Linked DNA regions of Homo sapiens. The protein of the gene in region 1 interacts with the protein of each later gene in a pairwise test. Each region holds a gene or a part of one and is shown in the gene's direction. Other genes may lie near its edges.

What was found. The genes of interacting proteins can lie anywhere in the genome.
Region 2: the proteins of TRIM32 (region 1) and RAB29 interact in binary tests that used the Homo sapiens proteins (3 or more experiments, as listed by UniProt).
Region 3: the proteins of TRIM32 (region 1) and DERL1 interact in binary tests that used the Homo sapiens proteins (3 or more experiments, as listed by UniProt).

The regions. Positions count from the first base shown.
Region 1 is NC_000009.12:116,690,282-116,697,304, forward strand, and holds part of TRIM32 (E3 ubiquitin-protein ligase TRIM32), read left to right. Parts: intron 1-7,023. UniProt on the Homo sapiens protein: E3 ubiquitin ligase that plays a role in various biological processes including neural stem cell differentiation, innate immunity, inflammatory resonse and autophagy.
Region 2 is NC_000001.11:205,772,474-205,779,340, reverse strand, and holds the start of RAB29 (ras-related protein Rab-7L1), read left to right. Parts: upstream 1-3,858; 5' UTR 3,859-4,068; exon of another isoform or gene 4,069-4,254; 5' UTR 4,255-4,384; coding exon 4,385-4,508; intron 4,509-6,773; coding exon 6,774-6,845; intron 6,846-6,867. UniProt on the Homo sapiens protein: The small GTPases Rab are key regulators in vesicle trafficking. Essential for maintaining the integrity of the endosome-trans-Golgi network structure.
Region 3 is NC_000008.11:123,039,294-123,046,829, reverse strand, and holds the start of DERL1 (derlin-1), read left to right. Parts: upstream 1-4,527; 5' UTR 4,528-4,707; coding exon 4,708-4,860; intron 4,861-7,536. UniProt on the Homo sapiens protein: Functional component of endoplasmic reticulum-associated degradation (ERAD) for misfolded lumenal proteins. Forms homotetramers which encircle a large channel traversing the endoplasmic reticulum (ER) membrane.

The DNA.
Region 1 (7,023 bases):
TCTAGGTTTTATTCCTTGTTTACAGATAAGAAAAATAACAGGTTAAATGACTTACCCAGGGCTACAGAGCAAGTAGCTAGGTTGGGATACAAACCCAGTTCTGTCTTACACCTATGTTACATTATAGTAGTTTTATTAGAAGCCTTTTCCAACCCTTCAGAGCCCCTATGTTTATGTCTGGAGAATAGTTGGAAGCCAGAAGTTTATAAGGCCCTTAAAGTAGATCATTGTCTATGCACACTGATGTGTAACCTTTGTGACATTCCCTCCATCTTGTCTTTCTGGTAAAACAATCAAATTTAAAAATCATTTCTAGGTGCCCTTACCAACCTCTCAGCCAGACTTTGTCTAAAGCTAGGGAACTATGAAACATCCTTTAAGTTAGTAATTTTATGGCTGGGAGTTGATACTGGGATTTGAATCCTTGCTCTATTACTTATTGGTTTTGAGACCTTGGACAGGCTACTTTCTCTGAGCATTGGTTTCCTTATTTTTGAAGAGGAATCACACTTACTTTACATGGTTATTATGAGACTATGAGAACATATAAAAAAATGCCTGACAATAAATAGTAGTTGCTTTAAGAGTGTTAGCAATTATGAGAGGAAGGCAGTGCTGGAAGAGAACTAAGTGTTGCTTTGTCATATTTATTTATTTATACAGGGTCTTGCTGTGTCACCCAGGCTGGAGTGCAGTGGTGCAATCACAGTTCACTGCAGCCTCAACCTCCTAGGCTCAAGTGATCCTCCCATCTCAGCCTCCCAAGTAGCTGGGACCACAAGTGCATGCCACCACACCTGATTATCTTTTAAATTTATTGTAGAGATGGTGTTTCACTCTGTTGCTCAGGCTCTTTGCCAGATTTTGATAACCCTAAGTAGTCTCTGCTAGTCTCCCCAAAATTCTCATCCCATTTTGTATATTTCCTAGGATCTCCTTGATCCTTTAATCATAATCTCATGATTAAATGAACAGATGTTATATGCAGAGAAAGGAATTGAAAGAGAGAGAGGGTTGAGGTTAGTTGGAGGTCCCTGAGAAGGGGCTATTGATTTTTCCTTTGTCTTATATTCCTTGAGTCATACTGGCAGCGTAGGTACTACTCAAATGTTTGTGAAAGATGCAAGGGAGTCTTTCTAGGTCCTGCAGTTTTAGAGGAAGACAGAGACAACAGGCAAGCATGTTTTCCAGGAAACCCTATTATTCATTTAGCCTGCCCTTGACATAGTTTAGCTATGTTTAACTTAGTAATTTAGCTAAAGTTTTCTTTCTCTACAAACATACTTCCTTCTGGATCGTTTTGTTTGCCCCAGACTGGTACAACTTCAGGAGCATGCCTGTGTTTCCCTATAAGCCCCTACTTGTTGAGTTTATCTTAGTTGTCTGCAGGTGCCTTAAATGCCCTGAGTAATCTAAACTTCATCAGAATCCTCTCCCACACACAGGAGTGGATGTCAGGTGATGACCTCACTGAATTCGTTAAAGTCAGTCCTGCTAACGAGTGGCCTTTGGTGGCACAGTGATAGTTTTGCACTTGATTAGCATTCTGTTAGAATGCATGAGGAATAAAGTTTAGAAAGCTGACATAAAAGGAAATGAGATAAACCTTGCAAAAAACCCAGTCAAACCAGGGGAGCGTGTCAATAGTAGGATGGACCTTTATGTCTTGTGAAAGGAAATGCAATATTTTACATGTTGTCTAGTTTTTAGGGGAAAGCACTGTTTATGTCTGGTTTTTGCTCAAAATTGTATCACCAGTACCGTTCACAGGGCCAGACACATAGTAGGTGCTTAGTAAAGATTTGTTTTGTTAATTGCTTAAAGTTCTCCAGTTTTGCTCATGGCCTAAGCCACCAAAGGCTGATATAGGTAAAGGAAATGGAGATATCTAGAGAACCACCCCATGGTGGCAATTCAAGCATTAGGTGAAGATTTGAAACCTTAGATCATCTCTAATCTTTAGATTCTGGGATCAGGTAAAACAATTTCTAGGAGGGCTTAGAATTTTTATTATTTAGGTTTATGTATCTGGGGCCTTGGGTACAGTCTGCTGAAAAGTGCCTATTCATTTCTTCTAATAGGTTGGGTGGTGGCAGCAGCAGTTGCTGCTACTGCTAATAATAATAAAAACTATTATTTATGTATAGTTAATTGCATGCCTGGCTTGGTACTGTACTTAGTGCTTTACACACATAATCTCATTTAATCTTTGCAATAACTTTGTGAGGAAGATACTATTTTAAAGTCCCTTTCCATAGATAAACTGAGAACTACAGAAGTATTAATAACTTGCTCACGTCTCCACAATAAGTAGTAGAGCTTGAATTCAAATCCAGGAAAGCCTGATCCCTCAGGCCTGCTTCCTTAATCTATATAATACTGTCCACTCCTAGTTCGTGTCTTTTAGTCCTAGTTCTGTTGTGTGATTTGTGGTCTTAATTTCCCTCTCCTGGTCTTAGTTTTCTCATCTATTTTACAACTTGAGATTACTACCTTTTCTTCCCCTTTTGCCCAGGCTGAAGTACAGTAGCATCATCACAGCTCACTGCAACCTCCACTTCCTGGTCTCAAGTAAGGAGATTGCTACGAATTCTAGCATTTCATACTTAGTCTCTGCTTGAAGGAGCTACAGCAGCTCATTTTCTGGGCAAGACAAGTTGTAAATTCATTTACCCATCAGTTTTTAGCCTGTATGTCTGGCATTCTCAATCAAAACTCTTCAAAACTGACCAGCCCTTTTATTAATCTTTATATGCCTTTATATGCCATGAAAGGAAAGGTTGTTCATGCTTTCAAAATGTAGTTTGTAAACTGAATGCGTTATTAATACTAGTACTAGTTATTGTTAATGCTGTTTCTGGTTATTATTTATTTAGCATCCTTTTATTGTACACCTAAGGGTATCAGGCTAAGTACTTTATATGCATTTTCCATAGTCATTACAGTACTCTTTTTATAAACTAAGAAAACAGGTTTAGACAGGTTAAATAAATTGCCTGCTTCCCCACAACTTGTGACAGTGCTAAGATATGATCTCAGTCCTATATAACTTTAAGGTTCATTCTTTTGTTTTGTTTGCTTTTTCTACTACCTTGGTTACTCATTTCATGGAATGGGGAAAACCCAGTGGTGCTAGAAGAGGCGAGATTAATATGGAATATAATTATGTAATTTTTCTGAGTCTTAGGGCAGCCAGAGTAGACACAGCTTAAGGGACAGATTCTCATCGGGAGCTGAAGAGATGTGCTAGTACAGTATGGTATGGGATGTACAGTATTAATCATTAGGTCAAGGGATGTGGGAAGATGGTAGGCTGATGTTAGATGAGGTGGGAGGTCAAGAATTAATGGCACAAAGTGCACAACAGGAAACAGACATTCAAGGGATCATGAAGGGAGCCAAGATGATACATAGCATGTTGGATACTCATTCTGATTGGTTGTACAGTTGATAGCTGGCAGAAAATGGGCAGCTTACTTAAAGATTTGGAATGATAAGACAATTCCTTTTATTTGTGTAGTCTTTTGGGGAAACTGAAGTCAAATTGACCTTCTATCTGAGTCATTCTCAGTATTACAGTAATGACCAGATGTGCCCTTCTGGAGGAGACGGGCTCTATCTGCCTGTCTCTTAGCTCCATTTCAGGCTAAGATCCTTCACAAAGCAGTGTTTTCAAGTCATGGAAGTGGGAAAAGTGGTTCTGGCTTTTTCCAGGTTTGAGACTATTTCCGTGCCTCATGCTTTAGTGAGGGGAACACAGGTTTTCCTGGCAAAGCATGGCAGCTTTGGGGCAGGAATTCTTGACATCCTCAGAGAGCTTGGTGAAGCTGTAGTCAGCTGAGATAATTTGGGGATGTGGGCATAGTAAATTCATTTTTTTAAACCTGATGTCTTAGACAGAGAGGTAGGAAGCTTTTCAATTGAAGGAGGGATATGATATTCCAGAAAGCTTGGGAAATAATTTGCTGCTATTTTTACAAGTTGGCAGCCTTGTTTAATAAACTGATCTGCACTGCCAGCTCTGGGAAGAACACAGATGTCCCTGTGCATTGTAAGGTAACGTTCTAGATTCAAACTCCAAATGTCCTCAGTCTGTTGTCCCAGATGATAGAAGAGAGAACTGTAGCTATTGATTTAGAATTGAGAAGGGTTGCATGGATCCTGAGTTGTAATTTCTCTTTTTTTTTTTTTTTTTTTTGAGATGGAGTCTCGCTCTGTCACCCAGTCTGGAGTGCAGTGGCGCGTCTCGGCTCACTGCAAGCTCCGCCTCCCAGGTTCATGCCATTGTCCTGCCTCAGCCTCCCGAGTAGCTGGGACTACAGGCGCCTGCCACCACGCCCAGCTAATTTTTTTTTTTTTTTTTGTATTTTTAGTAGAGACGGAGTTTCACCGTCTTAGCCAGGATGGTCTCGATCTCCTGACCTCATGATTCGCCCACCTCAGCCTCCCAAAGTGCTGGGATTACAGGCATGAGCCACCACGCCTGGCCCTGAGTTGTAATTTCTATCAGTATGTCTATGCTATTGCCCCTAGACACTTGGCATTTAAGAATTTACCATTCATAGTTTCAGATATCCACATCAGACCTCATACGCTCATGATATATGGTAAATATTATTTTGCTGAGGTATGGATTTGAGTCATAATGGGTTGCAAGCTTGCTGTGTGAGAGTAGGTCACTCAGCTAATAAATCAATCTATCCCACTCTATAGCAGCAGAATCTCATAACTATATTAGTGTTCCTTCTGTGTTATGGAGAAAATGCGTATGCTATAAGGCAGCATTCCCCAGAGCGTGGTCAAGGGAACATTAGTTAATCATTGTTATGTGACAGTAAAAAATAGCTTGAAATAATGTTGGGTTAAATAAAGTAAAAATATCTGTACTTCAAGGTTCCACTATGTTTGAGCTGTGTGACCTTGAGCAAGTTTTTCTGAGCATTCGTTTCCTCATCTGTAAAATAGGATAATAAAAATATTACCACTTCATAGTGTCATCATGAAGATTAAAAGAGATTAAGCATATAAAGTATCTGTCATAGTAACTAGCATATAATAGGCACTAGATGCATAGTTTCCCTTGCAGTACAAAGGAAGTGGGATATCAGGGAGGAAGGATTAACTTTAGATAATTGTGCATGTCTGCTGCTATATATTTGTCAGATTGCATTCCAAAGCTAATATGGTAGAAATTTGTTGTAATGTATATCTCTACATTAACTCCCCTTCTTCTCTATGCCTGGAGAAAGAGTTGATGTCATGTGCAAAGTGTTCTTGAGCTAAATGCATTGTCCTTAAAATCAAACGAACTTGCCCTCCACTTCCTCCTTCTCCTGGGTGGTTGACCATCTGCAGATCACAAGACTGCACAGATACAGCTGTAGGATTTGCGTTTATGAAATGCTGACTTTATCATATGCCTCAACTTGCTAGACCTATTCATTCTGATTTGGGGTATACGTTGACAGTGACCTAAGGCTACAGAGCACTGAGATCTCTCTGGGTCAACTTCATAAGTATATGTATATCAAGAGGGTTGGAGTGTTCATGGTTTGTATTGGGTGACGCAGAGGGTACTCTAAGCCAGAAATAAACTGTCTTGATAAGGCACTGCTATTTTTTAAATCATCTAGGCTTGAGTCTTTGGCTATCTCTGCTCTTCACCACTCCCCCACCATAATCCACTCACCTTTCAAATCTTACTGACTATACTTCTGGATATTGCTCAAATGAATCTTTCCATTTCCACCACCTGCTCCCTAGTTCAGACTCCCCATTATCCCCGTCTTCTCTGATGTTTCCCCACTCCATTCCTGCTTTGATCATATCATCTTCCTGCTTCAAAACATTCATCACCTCACCATGCCCTTGAAAATGACGCTCAAAAATCTCATTTTGGCTCTGAAGACCTTTTATAATTATTCCCCCAATTTACCTTTCCAAGTCTGTTACTCTATTCCCCATATATACTCCCACAGTTTTAATCTAAGGATAATAAAAAAGAGAACTAAAATTCATTAAAGGCTTTTTTGGTGCAGAGCCAAATCTTAGCATTCTATACACTCTATATATTATTTCATTCTTACATTAACTCTGTAAAGACAGTATTTTTCCATTTTAAAGGTGGAGAAAATAAAATGCATAGAGTTTAAGTATTCTCTGTTTTCTTTCTAATACATGAAACTTCTTGTCCTTTCCTTTGCCTTTTATACTTTGTTAAGGTTGTGCCTTTTGCCCACTTCTTTCTTCCCTCTCCATGTATTTATGCATCTTTCCAGGCCAATATAAAATGTCATCTTCCCTTTGAAAATTCTGTATCCCTTCAGATTGGAATGACTCCTCAACCCCCATCAAACTTAGTTTTTATTTCGTTTATAGTACCACTTTCTGCCTTCATTATTATTTACCTACATGTCTTGTCTTTTATAAAGTTTGAATATCTGAAGAGCAGGATCTGTATCCTAAAGACCTCTTGTATCTAGTACAGAACAAGATACCTAAACTTAGATGGGTGGATAGGTGAGTAAGTAGGAGGATAGATGCGTGGAAAATGTGTATTTTCTGATCTGATGTTTTGCAGATCACCTAAAACTAATCATCACAATTTTCTGCTTCTGTGGATGATTCCTAGGCCCCCAAACATGACACAATAAACTCTGTGACATGATTAAAAAAAAAAAAAAAAGCCTCCACACTTTTGCTTACATGGTTTTCTTTGCTTAAAGTACCTTTATCCTCATTCCTTCATTTCTTTCAAGACATATCTTAGGAGTGAAACTGCTTTTGGGAAGCCTTCCCCAAGTCTGTTAGGTAGAATCCATCATTCCATCCACTGTACTCCAGCAGAACATTATGTGGACTTGCATGTTATACTTATTCCTTTTACTGTGCATAATTCTCCTGTGCTTTTCTCTTAGTGTAAATCAGAAGTTGTAAAATTCACCAAATATGAAAATAATCATTAGCTCATTAGCATTTATTACAAGTATACTACTTCCCTGGTGCTATACTAAGCACATCATA
Region 2 (6,867 bases), on another chromosome or scaffold:
TTTTAGAACCTTCGGTGACCTTTAAGACAATCCACTCCCACTTAGTGAATAATATAGTTTCTCTTCCTTTTGATTTTCTTAATAATATTTAAGTAAGATTTAGATGTGTAGAAAGAAACCTGAAGAGTATTCTGAAAGGTGATGCATCCTGGACAAAAACAGAAAATCAAAAATGACATTGGGCTTTAAAAGAGCATAAGGAACCTCACCTTGTTGGAAGAAGGAAACTCCCATTTGAAGTCGGGTGAGATAAAATTGGTTAGGTAGGCCGGGGCAGGTGCATAGAAAGCTTTGGACACCAGCTTCAGGGAGGTTGGCCTTTTTTTTTGAAAGACAGTTGGTAGACAAGGAAGAACAAACAATGGTGTTTTAGGAAAACCATCCTGTCCAGTTGTAGACGGTGAGTTAAAAAGAAAATAAATTCAGGGAGACCAATAAACAGGTTACTGCAGGAATCCAGGTGTGAGATGGTGAAAGCCTGAACTAGGAAAGTGTTACTTGCTGATTACCTGGGTGACAAAATTATCTGTAAGCCAAACTCGCGCAACATGCAGTTTACTCGTGTAACAAACCTGCACATGTACCCCTTGAACCTAAAATAAAAGTTGGAGAAAAAAAAAAAAGGAAAGTATTACTGAATATGAAGCAGAGAGGATGAGTGGGAGAAACCATTTACTGAAGAAACAATCAATCAGACATGGTAACTGAATTTTTTTTAAAAGGGTATAGACCAGGTGCGGCGGCTCACGCCTGTAATCCCAGCACTTTGGGAGGCTGAGGCGGGTAGATCACTTGAGGTCAGGAGTTCAAGACCAGCCTGGCCAACATGGTAAAACCCTGTCTCTACAAAAAAAATACAAAAATTAGCCAGGCTTGGTGGTATGCGCCTGTAGTCCCAGCTACGCAGGAGGCTGAGGCACAAGAGTTACTTGAGCCCAGGAAGCAGAGGATGCACTGAGCCAAGATCATGCCAATGCACTCCAGCCTGGACAACAGAGTGAGACTCCATCTCAATAAACAAACAAACAAATAAATAGGTATAAAGGGACATGTGTAAAGGAAATAATAATGCTCAGAATCTGAAGTCTACATGGAGGCAAGAAATGATGAGACCAGTGACAGAAATAGGGAAGCTGAGAAAAGGAGCTATTTTTATGGCAATGTAGTAAGAGGAAGGATGTGGCAGGACATCCAAGTGGGGGCACCTTTTGGGCAGCTGAATATCACTGATCAGAGATAAAGAACAAATAAAGTGTTAATGGTAGCTATGATAGCGGTTATCACCAGTGCCGTGAGTATTCCTTCATTAAGGGCTGACACAGAGAACAATTATACTTATTGGGTATATTTATCAATCTTGGCTGGCAATAATGCCTGGATGCAATCACTTTATGACGCAGTTACACATGCTTTCTGATCTCAGTATTTACCATAATAAATCTGCTCCTATAATTGAGGCATACCGCCCTCAAAAACTTATTTGTAAACAGGATTGGACCCAGTTAGAAAAAATGAACGTACTTGTTTAGGAAGATTGCATTGCAGAACAGGCAGAGATGCTGCACAATGATTCCTATGGAATCATTATTAATTGGTCCCCTAAGGGGATGTTTAGCTTGAATTGCACCTCTCAGTCTGCGTGCCACGGCCACACTATGTTCAGCTGGTCTGAACAAAATGGTCAGATGGTAGATATAATAAGAAGTACAGCAAGAGTTCCTATTATCTGGAACCATGGCAGTATAGTGACACCTCAACCTCAAATGATATGGCCCGCTCTAGGAGCTTAACATAAGGATTTAAAATTAAAAGAAGAAATATTTAAAGCATCCGAGGCACACTTGACCTTAATGCCAGGAACTGGAGTGCTTAAAGGAGCCGAAAATGGATAAAAACACTTGGAAGCTCTGTGATTTCAATGATGATTGTGCTTTTAATCTGTGTTGTTTGTCTTTGTATAGTCTGCAGATGTGTATCCTGACTCCTGCGAGAAGTAGCTCACCGTGACAAAGCTGCCTTTGCATTTATCAATTTGCAAATCAGAGAAGAGGGACATGTTGAGAGCAGGCCCCCCAAAATCTGGCCATAAACTGGCCCCAAAACTGGCCATAAACAAAATCTCTGCAGCACTGTAACATGTTCATAATGGCCCTAACGTCCACGCTGGAAGGTTGTAAGTTTACAGGAACGAGGGCAAGGAACACCTGGCCCGCCCAGGGTGGAAAACCGCTTAAAGGCATTCTTAAGCCACAAACAATAGCATGAGTGATCTGTGCCTTAAGGACATGCTCCTGCTGCAGTTAACTAGCCCAACCTATTCCTTTAATTCGGCCCATCCCTTCGTTTCCCATAAGGGATACTTTTAGTTAATTTAATATCTATAGAAACAATGCTAATGACTGGTTTGCTGTTAATAAATACGTGGGTAAATCTCTGTTCGGGGCTCTCAGCTCTAAAAGCTCTAAAGGAAATCAGACCCCTGATTTCCCACTTCACACCTCTATATTTCTGTGTGTGTGTCTTTAATTCCTCTAGCGCCACTGGGTTAGGGTCTCCCCAACAGAGCTGGTCTTGACAGAATATCACTGATCAGAGATAAAGAACAAATAAAGTGAAGATAGATCTTTGACACCAAGGACAATTCACTAAAGAGTTTATCGAATGATTGACTCAGAGACCAAGAATCAGGCCTTAGGAAATACTTAGCGGGAAATGGGATGGAGAGAAACCTGAAAGAAAAAGATAATCATCAGAGAAGTACGGGGATGACAAAGAAAGAACAGCGTCATAGAAGGCATAAGGGAAACAAATGTCAAGGAGTGGTCAACTATGTCAAAACGAATAAGAACAGAGAAAACTGGATCCTTAAAGATGAGTAGCTTGAACTAACCTCCTGTACCTGGGTAACGAACATTCTGGGCAAAATATATTGTGAACCATGCTGATGTTCTTTCGCCACAAAACATAAGTGATAGCCTCTCTATCAAGAGACCTAGATTTCCTAGTGTCTGGTCCTGGGCTGTTTTCCCATGGCCCCGCTGGTTCTCTTCCTCTATTCCTAGAAAAGTATAGAAAATGGAGCTCTCTTTGCTTGCCATTGAGCTCATGTCCTGCCAACTTCTACCCAAGTGACAGGTAGGTCAGTAAAGTTACAGGCTGAGAAATTAAAATTATTTGCCAAACACTAGTTTTATGATTATCTATTAACAACAGCCACAACAAATCAAGAAGGAGTCCCAGTGTATTTCAATTAGCTTCTAGCTCAAGTGATACATGAGTAGTATGGCTAGAATAGGCATTGTAGAAGTATGAATGGAGAACTGTCTCTTGTTTTCTGTCCATCTTTATTGTTATTGCTGGATATTAAATGCTGTAATTTTTGGCATAGGTTTTTTTCCAAAGACTGGTCTCTTGGGTCAAGTTTTCCTGAACTTGCCTGGTATTGGGCAAGTTCACACAGAAAATATGAGTCATTTCACAAAGTCCTGGGCTTGTCTATCTACTTGAAGGAATAGGAAATGGACTTCACTTGGAGCATGATGGATGAGGCTTGGGCTTTTACTAATGAAATAAGTTTCAATCTTAACTCAGTTAAACCTTTAAAGACAGGAGAAAACTATCTGGGGATGGATTCAGGCCAGTGAGATCACGTTGCACAAATCTCCCCTTAAGGGATCTTTACTGACCTAGAATTGTTTCAAAATAAGATTCCAAACTGTCGAGGGAGTTTGAAGCCTTGAAACTTGGTGTAGGTTTGCTTAAAACAAAATAACGAATATACTACATTTCCCAGGAGGCTTCGCGGTGAGCCTCCGCACTCGGCTGGTTCTCTTTACCGCGAGGAAAGCTGGGAAATGTAGTGCCACAGGCAACCCTGCACGTGACGCTTGCGGAGGAAGGGGAGAGAGAGGCGCGCGGGAGGGCGTCTAGGGAATCGAGGTGCCGGCTGCTCCTTCCTCACAATTTGGTTTGTGCTGCAAGGGGAGGGTCCCCATCATCTGGCCCCAGTGGTGTAAGGAGCTGACTGGGATTCAGTCACTGACTTGGAGCCGCTCGGGGGAAGTCCCGGTGGGTGAGGTTCCGCGGCGCCTGGTCCAGTTTCTCGGCAGTCAGGCCAGGAGGGGGTGGGGAAGGTGCGAACAGCCGGGGGCTCGGAGCTCGCGCCCTGCGCCCCACCCAGGTTGCGGCCGCCCGGGGAGGAAGCGCGTATAGGTTGAGTGCAAAGTTTCCTTTTTTGCTTTCTCGTCAGAGCAGCCCAGACAGGCGGTGGGTGGGAATGCCTCACTTCAGTTTGAAGAGGGTCCGGATCCAAAGGGGTTAAAACGAGCGACCCCCGATCCCCGACCACACTTCCCGCCTCCCTAAAACGCACACCCCGCTAGCCATGGGCAGCCGCGACCACCTGTTCAAAGTGCTGGTGGTGGGGGACGCCGCAGTGGGCAAGACGTCGCTGGTGCAGCGATATTCCCAGGACAGCTTCAGCAAACACTACAAGTCCACGGTGGGAGGTGAGACGTCTCGGGGGTGGGGAGGGGGAGGGGGAGGAGGAGGCCCCGACCGCGGACTCGAGCTGGGGACCCAAGTGGGGTGGGGATTTGCTGTCGGTTGTTGGGTCCTTCTTCGGGTCAGGAAGTACTGTCTGGGAACCTAGATGGTGTAATTGCCGGGTGTTTGGTTTACACGCCTCTCTTGAGTTTCCCGTTAGATTTTCCCAAACTGAGCCCACTGCCAGGAGAAAGGTAAGAGCAAAGGCGTGAAGATGAGAAATAGGGAAGGGAGGATGAGGATGAGCAATTGCTGTTTATTGCAGGCGTACTGTGAACTTAAGTCTCCAGCCTTTCAGCTGTCCGGCAAATCTCTCCAATCAGCAGAAGCAGCTGAGATCCTCTGTGGGGCCTCCTGGTTAGGTGCCGGCTGGGGCTGTAGTCCTGCCCCTCTGTTGAGGGAGGAACCGCAAGGTGTTTAACCTGGCTTCAGTGGGAGAACGCAGGAAGCGGAACTGGTCTGAAGGACTGTAGCTTTGTTGTGGGGCTGTGGGTGGGATGGAAGACACAAAATCCCCGAACGAGCCCCTTGGCTACGCAGTCAGATGCCCATGAGGGCTGATGAGCTGTGTTTTTGTCCGTTGATTGCTTAAATAAAGGTAACCAAGGAATTCTTCCAAGAATGTGAAATATACCACTTCTCTGACCTATCTTCCCACCACTTTTTTCCTCAAACTGGAGAAGGTAGGGAGGAAGGGGACACCGAGTTCATTCATTTCTTTCCCGGGTGTGGCCTTTGGACTCAACTATTTTTTCAGAGGCAGAAATGCCTTATTGTTAATTAGAAGGTATTTAGCTAGGAAGAGCTGGTGATGGGGGAGAGTAACTTAAAATTTTATTTCTCTCTGTTAAAAGAACTTGTTTCAAGGGGGGAAAACTCGTACCAATGGAAAAATTGAAAATGTGTGCTCCTGTTCATATGGAAGTTTAAAAAGAAATTAACAAACATTTACATTGCAATTAAAACATTCTCCTTAAGAACCCCCAGTAGGGCCCAGTACCGTGGTTCATACTTGCAATCCCAGCACTTTAGGAGGCTGAGGCGGGAGGATTGCTTGAGCCCAGGAGTTCGAGACCAGCCATGGGAAACATGGCAAGACCCCCACCTCTACAAAAATTAAAGAAGAAAGTAGCCGTGGTCCCAGCTACTCGGGAAACTGAGACGAGAGGATTGCTTGAACTGGGGAGGTCGAGGCTTCAGTGAGCCCCGTTCGCACCACTCACTGCACTGTAGCCTGGGCAACAGAGTGAGACCCTGTCTCAAAAACAAAGGAACAAAAAATTTAAGTCTGGCAAAATTAAAGGTTCAAAGTTTCAGACACTCTATCCTGACCGCTCTGCCCTCCCACTCCTAAATAATATAAGGGTCCCTATTTCACGGATTTGGGTTAAAAGTGGCCTGCTATTAATAGTTAATTTTTAACAATTGCTGTAGTTTTCCTTTAGCAAAGAATATAATTGGCTAATTTTTTTTTCAGTGTTTAGTCTAAATTTCCCTTAGCTTTGATTCCTGTCACAGATGTGAAAGATAATATTTCCAAACCTCAGAAATTACTCTGTTTCTCTCCTTAGCCAAAAGGCTTTCCCCATGGAATACTTACTCAGCCTTAAGGAGTCTCAGCACCTGCAGACTTGGTGGTAGATTCCAGCAGGACTCTTCAGCAACATCCACACAGTGTCTTCTTCTTGGGACTCCTCTGGGACCTTTTCCATTTATTCCATTCTTGCCCAAGATAATACCTGCAACCTTATGGTGGATGTAGAGTTCCCCAGGGTGTGTTCTTTTCATAATACAATTTGATTAGAAACCAACAGTGAAATTGAATGTGGAAGATACGAAAGCAACCACACTTGTCTCATTTCCCCCTTCTCCCCCATCACCCCTTCCCTGAGAAAACCCCCTAAATCTCCCAGAAACTATTTAACCTGAGAATGAGAATTGTTTTCATAGTTACTCCCACCCCCAGTCTTGGAGACAAACAGTAGCAAATAAATGAGCTTGACAGTAGAGTAAAAGCTGGAAACCCCTTTGGAGAGTGAGTATGAATCATCCATCTCACACTAAATACACGCATGTGGACTCATCTCAGTGAATTGAGGGCTTAAAGTTAAACATATGGGATTGGAGTTGTGTGTCCATAGGGTTTCACTGCCTATTTGATTTGAGTTTATCCCTATTAATTTTTTACAGTGAAATTTTATTAAAGTATAATGTACATATATTTTCAGTGGATTTTGCTCTGAAGGTTCTCCAGTGGTCTGACTACGAGATAGTGCGGCTTCAGCTGTGGGATATTGCAGGTAAAGTGGGAGGGCTAGATAG
Region 3 (7,536 bases), on another chromosome or scaffold:
AAAATTAGCTGGGCATGGTTGCAGGTGCCTGTAATCGTAGCTACTTGGGAGACTGAAGCACGCGCGTCGCTTGAACCCAGAAGGCAGAAGTTGCAGTGAGCCGAGATCACACCACTGCATGCCAGCCTGGGCAACCTGGGCAAGAGAGTGAAAACTCTGTCTCAAAAAAAAAAAAAATTTACAAAGTTTTGCACAGAGCCTTGGAAAGGCCTGTGCAAGTGAGGGGTCCTGTAGCCTAAGTTTGATTAGGTTCACAATCACACCACCTCTGGGAGGAAAAGTCATTGAGCTGTTAATATCTTTTTATTTTAAATCCTACTCCTGGAAATCAGTTCAACAAAAGGATCGAGAGGCAGTGTGGCCTAGTGGGTAAGAACAGTAAAATACAAGGTCCTTTCCATAACCTACAGTGTCCTCCATGATTCCAGTGACTCTCTCCTTCCTTTGTCTCTTGACCCTCCATCCCCACTCTCGCTCCACTCAGCCACATGGGTCTTCGTGTTTAAGGTCTCCATGCCAGCCACATTCCCACCTCAAGGTCTTTGCCATTCCTTCTATCTGAACTGTTCTTCCTCCAGATCTCCACACTGCTTGCTCTTTCACCACCCTGAGACGTGTACTCAATATCTTCTGAGTTTGCAGTGAGGCCTTCCCTCACCAGCCCAAATCTCCTTTTCTTCTTTTTTCTTTTCCTATTCCTATTGCCAGTTTACCTACTGTACATGTTACTTTTTTTTTTTTTTTTTTTGAGAGGAGTTTCGCTCTTGTTGCCCAGGCTGGAGTGCAATGGCGCAATCTCAGCTCACTGCAAACTTCACCTCCCGAGTTCAAGTGATTCTCCTGCCTCAGCCTCCTGAGTAGCTGGGATTACAGGCGCATGCCACCATGCCCGGTTAATTTTTGTATTTTCAGTAGAGACGGGGTTTCCCCATGTTGGCCAGGCTGGTCTCGAACTCCTGACCTCAGGTGATCTGCCCACCTTGGCCTCCCAAAAGTGCTGGGATCACAGGCGTGAGCCACCGCGCCCAGCCTGTACATCTTACTTTTATCTCTTTCTGTTGTCTTTCTGCCTCCTCTAGAATGTAAGTTCCAAGAGGGTGGAGATAATTGTCAGTTTAGTTCACTGTTTAGAACTGTTATTGGTATATAACAAGCACTGGACAAAAGCATTGCTGAATAAATGAATGAAAGAGCACCACCTTTGGGCTGGGCGTGGTGGCTCATGCCTGTAGTCCCAGCGCTTTGGGAGGCCGAGGTGTGTGGATCACTTGAGGCCAGGGGTTTGGAACCAGCCTGGCCAACATAGCGAAACCCTGTCTCTACTAAAAATACAAAAAAGTAGCCAGGCATGGTGGTGGACACCTGTAATTCTGGCTACTTGGCAGGCTGAGGCAGGAGGATTGCTTGAACCCAGGAGGCGGAGTTTGCAGTGAGCCGAGATTGCGCCACTGGCACTCCAGCCTGGGTGACAGAAGCGAGAGGGAGACGCTGTCTCAAGAAAAAAAAAGAAAAAAAAAAGCACCACCTTTGGCTTTAAATAGATCTGGGTTGAAGTTTTATATATGCACCTGCCGGCAAGTGCCAAGTTACTTAACTTCTCTAAGGCTGTTTCTTCATTTGTAAATGGAAATAAAAGTACTTCATAGGGTTGAAGCATTGTTGTAAAGACTAATTAAAACCATGCCCATAAAGGGCATAGCTGAGTGCCAATCAAACTGTAGACACTCAGCAAATGTTAGATATTAGTAAATAAAAAAGTTAGCTATTAGTATAAAATGTATATGCATAAAGGTATTCATTATAGAACTATATATAGTATTTAAAAACAGGTATCAGAAATAGGAAAATGGTCAAAAGATTCTGCCACATCACTAGTAGAATATTAGTCATTAAAATGATTATTAAGACTTTGTAGAAAGAGAAAGCCTTTAAAAAATAATTATTTAAATAATATTATTAATAAATTAATAATAAATTTAATAAATATTCAATATTATTTAAAAATAATAAATATTTTTAAAAGCCAGTCAAATTTAGCAGTGGGGGGTTGTATACCAACTTTAGTGACACTAATGTTAATAAGTTCTGATAAATCACTACCATCGGACCAGCCAGAAAGCCTTTGAATGTAAAGTTACAAGAAAAGACCAGACATACCTGGCCTACCGTTGCTCTGATTTAAACTTCAGTGTTTCTAAAGGCCGAAGTTGAATTCCAGAGCATTCACTATGAATTCTAGAGCACAACTTAGAAATAAACACTGCCAGGCCGGGCGCGGTGGCTCACGCCTGTAATCCCAGCACTTTGTGAGGCCGAGGCGGGCAGATCATGAGGTCAGGAGATTGAGACCATCTTGGCTAACACGGTGAAACCCCGTCTCTACTAAAAATACAAAAAATTAGCCGGGCGTGCTGGCGGACGCCTGTAGTCTCAGCTACTCGGGAGGCTGTGGCAGCAGAATCGCTTGAACCCGGGAGGCGGAGCTTGCAGTGAGCCGAGATCCCGCCACTGCACTCCAGCCTGGGCGACAGAGCAAGACTCCGTCTCAAAAAAAAAAAAAAAAAAGAAATAAACACTGCCAGATATTGGGTGTACATTTTTCTTGTTCTTGTCTTTTCTCATGCACGTGTACTTTTAAGTTTATCAGAGAAACTTTCCTTAGCCCTCCACCTAAGCCAGATAACCCCTGTTTTCTTTCACTGTACCTTGGTTATGAGTAGTGGGTACAAAACAATGGTGGTGGTAGTAGAGGGAAATAAACAGAATAAACCTCAGGCAATATCGTCAAGTATTATCTGTTATTTATATAAATATCTAGCTTTTATATCAAAATTATCTTTTTGTAAGGCTGTATCAATTTATATTCCCACCAGCTGTGTTCTTCGTAGATTTGCTATCCATTGGTTCCCAAATGTTGTATACTCTCATTACACTGTGGAATATTTAATGCCTTTTTGTTATGAAAAAACTGTTTTTATTAATTAACATCAAGGATATGGTGCTGACAAATATTCTCTAAAATTATGGAATGTTGGAAACTCTGCTGTCTGACATCCTTTCCGTGTGAATGGAACATCCCATTCTTGTCCAGAGCATCTGAGCCATACAGGTCACTTTGACACAGGATTTTCAATACAGGTACAAAGCTTTAGATAGAGTTTTCAGACCCAACGTTTCACATTTGTCGTAATTTTGAGATTTCCAAGGAAAGAGCCTGCTTCCTACTCAGGTCTGATGTTAACCTGATGCTGCACACAGCTCTGCTTTGCTTCGAGTCTATCAAACACTGCTCCAGTTAATTCTTACCAAAAAATCCCCCCATTCCCATAACCCAATAATGACACTTCCGTTTGATGAGAGGCATTGAGGTTCCTCTGGAGTGCAGTCTCCCTTGCTGCAGCAAGTTAATAAATCTAACTTTGTTGACTACAGGTTTGTTCCTGGTGCTCTTTATTGGAAGACTTTAGCAATCTTAAACTGCTGGCCCCAAATCCCAAAACAACGGGAAACTCTACTCAGTATCTTTTCTTTTTTTCTTTTTTTTGAGATGGAGTCTGGCTCTTGTCCCCCAGGCTGGAGTGCAATGGTGCAATCTCGGCTCGCTGTAACCTCCACCTCCCGGGTTCAAGCGATTCTCCTGCCTCAGCCTCCCAAGTAGCTGGGACTACAGGCGCCCTCCACCATGCCCGGCTAATTTTTGTATTTTTAGTAGAGACGGGGTTTCATCATGTTGGCCAGGCTGGTCTCGAACTCCTGACCTCGTGATCCGCCCGCCTCGGCCTCCCAAAGTGCTGGGATTACAGGCGTGAGCCACCGCGCCTGGCCAGTATCTTTTCTTAAAGATTCCTTCTTATACAAGTTGAATTAGACAAGATGGATCATTTTGGCTTTTAGTTCCTCCAACATTCCAACCTAGTTAGAGCGGCTTTTCTCTGTGCATGGAAAATTCTTCCCCCAGATCTCTTGCCTGGCTGGCCCAGTTCATACCTAAGGTAGCCATCTGTCCTCACACTGCCGCACCCCCACCCCGTCACTCCACCTCATCATCTCATTTCATTTTCCTATTTTTCTAATCACTCTCTGAGATTATCTTACTTCATTATCTATTTGTTTATAAATTATCCCAATGAGGATGTTAAGATCAGGAGAGAGGGTACCACGACAGCGCTGACAGCCGCAGCTGCCCAGTGTCTAGAACTGTGCCCAACAAACACTTGTGGAATGAGTAAGCAGACGAGGAACTAGACACTTCGTTTGCCTTCGTCCCCTTTAAATACCCTCCAGGTGGACCCAGCCGCATTAAAACTCTGAGAACTAGGTGAATGGCATTTGGCCTCGCCACTGGCCGGAGCGTTTGCCGTTGATCCAGGCAACCACTGTTTTCCCACCAGTCGTGTAGTCGCTCTACCTGGCTCCGCCCCCCAGGACGCCGAGCCTCGGCCGGGCGGTAAAATCGGCGCTTACCCTTTAAGCGGCGGGACTTCTGGTCACGTCGTCCGCGGTCGCCGGAAGGGGAAGTTTCGCCTCAGAAGGCTGCCTCGCTGGTCCGAATTCGGTGGCGCCACGTCCGCCCGTCTCCGCCTTCTGCATCGCGGCTTCGGCGGCTTCCACCTAGACACCTAACAGTCGCGGAGCCGGCCGCGTCGTGAGGGGGTCGGCACGGGGAGTCGGGCGGTCTTGTGCATCTTGGCTACCTGTGGGTCGAAGATGTCGGACATCGGAGACTGGTTCAGGAGCATCCCGGCGATCACGCGCTATTGGTTCGCCGCCACCGTCGCCGTGCCCTTGGTCGGCAAACTCGGCCTCATCAGCCCGGCCTACCTCTTCCTCTGGCCCGAAGCCTTCCTTTATCGCTTTCAGGTACTTACCGGAGACGGGGGGCGTGGAGACTACAGGCCCCAGGAGGCCCAGCGGCGGCTAAGCGTAGGCTGGCATGTTGCGGGCGCGCGGTGCCTGCTGGGATTTGTAGTGGGTCCGGCGCCGGCGGTTTAGGGCGGGGTCCTTTGGGCCCGGGGAGGCTCTGGGATCTGGAGCGGGGTGCTGGATAGCTGGAGTTGTGGGCTGGCCTGGTGGGGAGGGGTTGACTTCACTGGTATAGTGAGATTGTGCTTCCCGCTCTTCGCACTCAGTGAAGGAAGCAGTGAGATTAGTCGTTGGTAGTTGTCAATCTGTTGGACGCTGGCGATTAGGTCCGCCTGGAGCATTGCCCTCTGACCTCCCTCTGTCACCCACGTGGGTGGCCTGTAGGTGTCAACTTCACCAACTTATAGCTGAGTTCCTTTCACGTTTATGGAGTTTTTTTGTTTTGGTTTTCCTATAGGAGTGATTTAAAGTCAGAGATACAAAGAACGAGTGTATTGTTCTGCATTTCCCTCTAGACCTAATTTAGTGTCCCCCACGTAGTAATAGAATGTACGAAGGAATGGGCAAAGAGTACATTTGTCCAGAAATGGAAGGCCTTGTTATTTTCTTAAGCATGAAGGAAACAGTCCAGAGTAACATTTCTGTCAAGAGAGTGCCAGTTTTCTGAAGGTTATCTGTATTCACCAATTTCTGATTTAAAACTTCAATCAGTGGCAGGTCAGATAGCAAGATCTGGCATTAATTTCAGCCCTTTACTTGGCCTATGGATAACATTTTCTTGTCTTTCCCTGTCTTCACTGGGTGTTACTTCTTGGTTTCCTTTGCTGGTTCCTTATCTTCCTGACTTTTAAATGTTAGGATGTGCCTTGGGAATCAGTTATAGGACCTTTTCTATAGACTCTCCCTAGCTTTAGGTGGTCTCATTCATTCAGCCTCAGGGCTTTACATACTTTCTATAAACTGGAGATTCTGAAATATAAATATAAATATCTTCAGTCCAGATCTGTCTCCCTATTTCCAGATTTGTGCATCCAGCAGTTACTTGAAATCACGACTTGGATGACTAAGAGTCATCTTCATCTTAACGTGTCCAAAACTGAATCCCCTTTCCCCCTTTGCCTTAGAAGTGAATAGCAACTCCGTTATTAGAGGAGCTGAAGTTAATTGTCGGAGTCATCTTTTATTTTTCTTGTTTTTCTCACACCCCACAATCTGTCAGCAAATCCTATTGACTCTACTTGAGACATATATCCAGAATACAATCCCTTTTCATTCTCCATTGCAAGCCATTATCACTGCAATCTGGTTCCTTTCCATCTTTTCTCTAGACAGCTAGAGTGATCCTTTTAAAACCTACATCAAGTCCTGTCTTTCCTCTGTCCAGAATCCTACCATGTCTTCTTAATGAGTAAAATCCAAGTCCTTTCAGTGGCCTGCAAGGCCCCTGCTGCTTCTCTGACCTCATCTCCTACTACTCTCCAACTTGTACCTTAGGCTCCACAATGAGATCCTTGCTGTTACTTCAGTGCTTATCTGGATCTCTCCTCAGGGCCTTTGCACATGTTGTTTCTCTGCCTGAGGAAGATAACCGTGGCTCAGTTGTTTACCTCCTAACCTTCTTCAGATCTCTGCCCAAATGCCGTCTTGTTGACAAGGCCTTCTCTGATGGCCGTACATAAAATAGCCCGTCCTTCACTCCACTCCCTTATCCCTTATCCTTCATTTTTCTTTCTTTCTTTCTTTTTTTTGGAGACGGAGTCTCGCTCTGTTGCCCAGGCTGGAGTGTATATGGCGCAATCTTGGTTCACTGCAACCTCTGTCTCCTGGGTTCAAGCAGTTCTCCTGTCTCAGCCTCCCAAGTAGCTGGAATTACAGGTGCACACCACCATGCCCAGCTAATTTTTGTATTTTAGTAGAGACGGGGTTTCGCCATGTTGGCCAGACTGGTCTTGAACTCCTGACCTCAGGTGATCCACCCGCCTCAGCCTCCCAAAGTGCTGGGATTAGAGGCGTGAGCCACTGAGCCTGGCCTTATCCTTCATTTTTCTTGCTACATATTACCCTTTGGTATTTATTAGTCTGCTTCCCCTCAGAGAATAAGGCTCCATGAGAGCCGTTCACCACTGTCCTTGTTACCTGGAATAGTGCCTGGGACGTAGTAGGTGCTTATATATTAACTGAGTTGTTGGAAGTAATTGGGCACTTGCTGTGTGCTGGGCACTGGGGTACAATAGTAAATAGGACTGAAAAGGTTTCAGAGCCTGTGAAGACATAGAGGCACGTGTTTTAAGGGGTGTAATATTTGATAGGGTGTTCCACCCAGAAAGGCCTCAGAGAAGACATTTGAAGAAATTGGAATACTGAGGAGCCAGCCAGCCAGCTTTGGGTAGATCTGGCTCTGGAGACAACCTTCCAGGAAGGACTAGTAAGTGAAAGGCTCAGAAGTAGGAGCTGGGAACAGGAAGAAGACTGGGTTGCCAGCTGGCACAGGGTCAGCTGTAGGGTGAGGATTAGTAGATGACAGCAGGGAGATAGCCAGGGCTGGGTGTAGTAAAGCTAAGATGGAAAGGTGGGTTAAAGCTAGATCATAGTTGAGCCTTGTAGGTCATGTTAAGAGGTTTGAACTTTATTTTGAGGGCACTATGAAGTCTTTGGAGCCTTGTGAACAAAGGA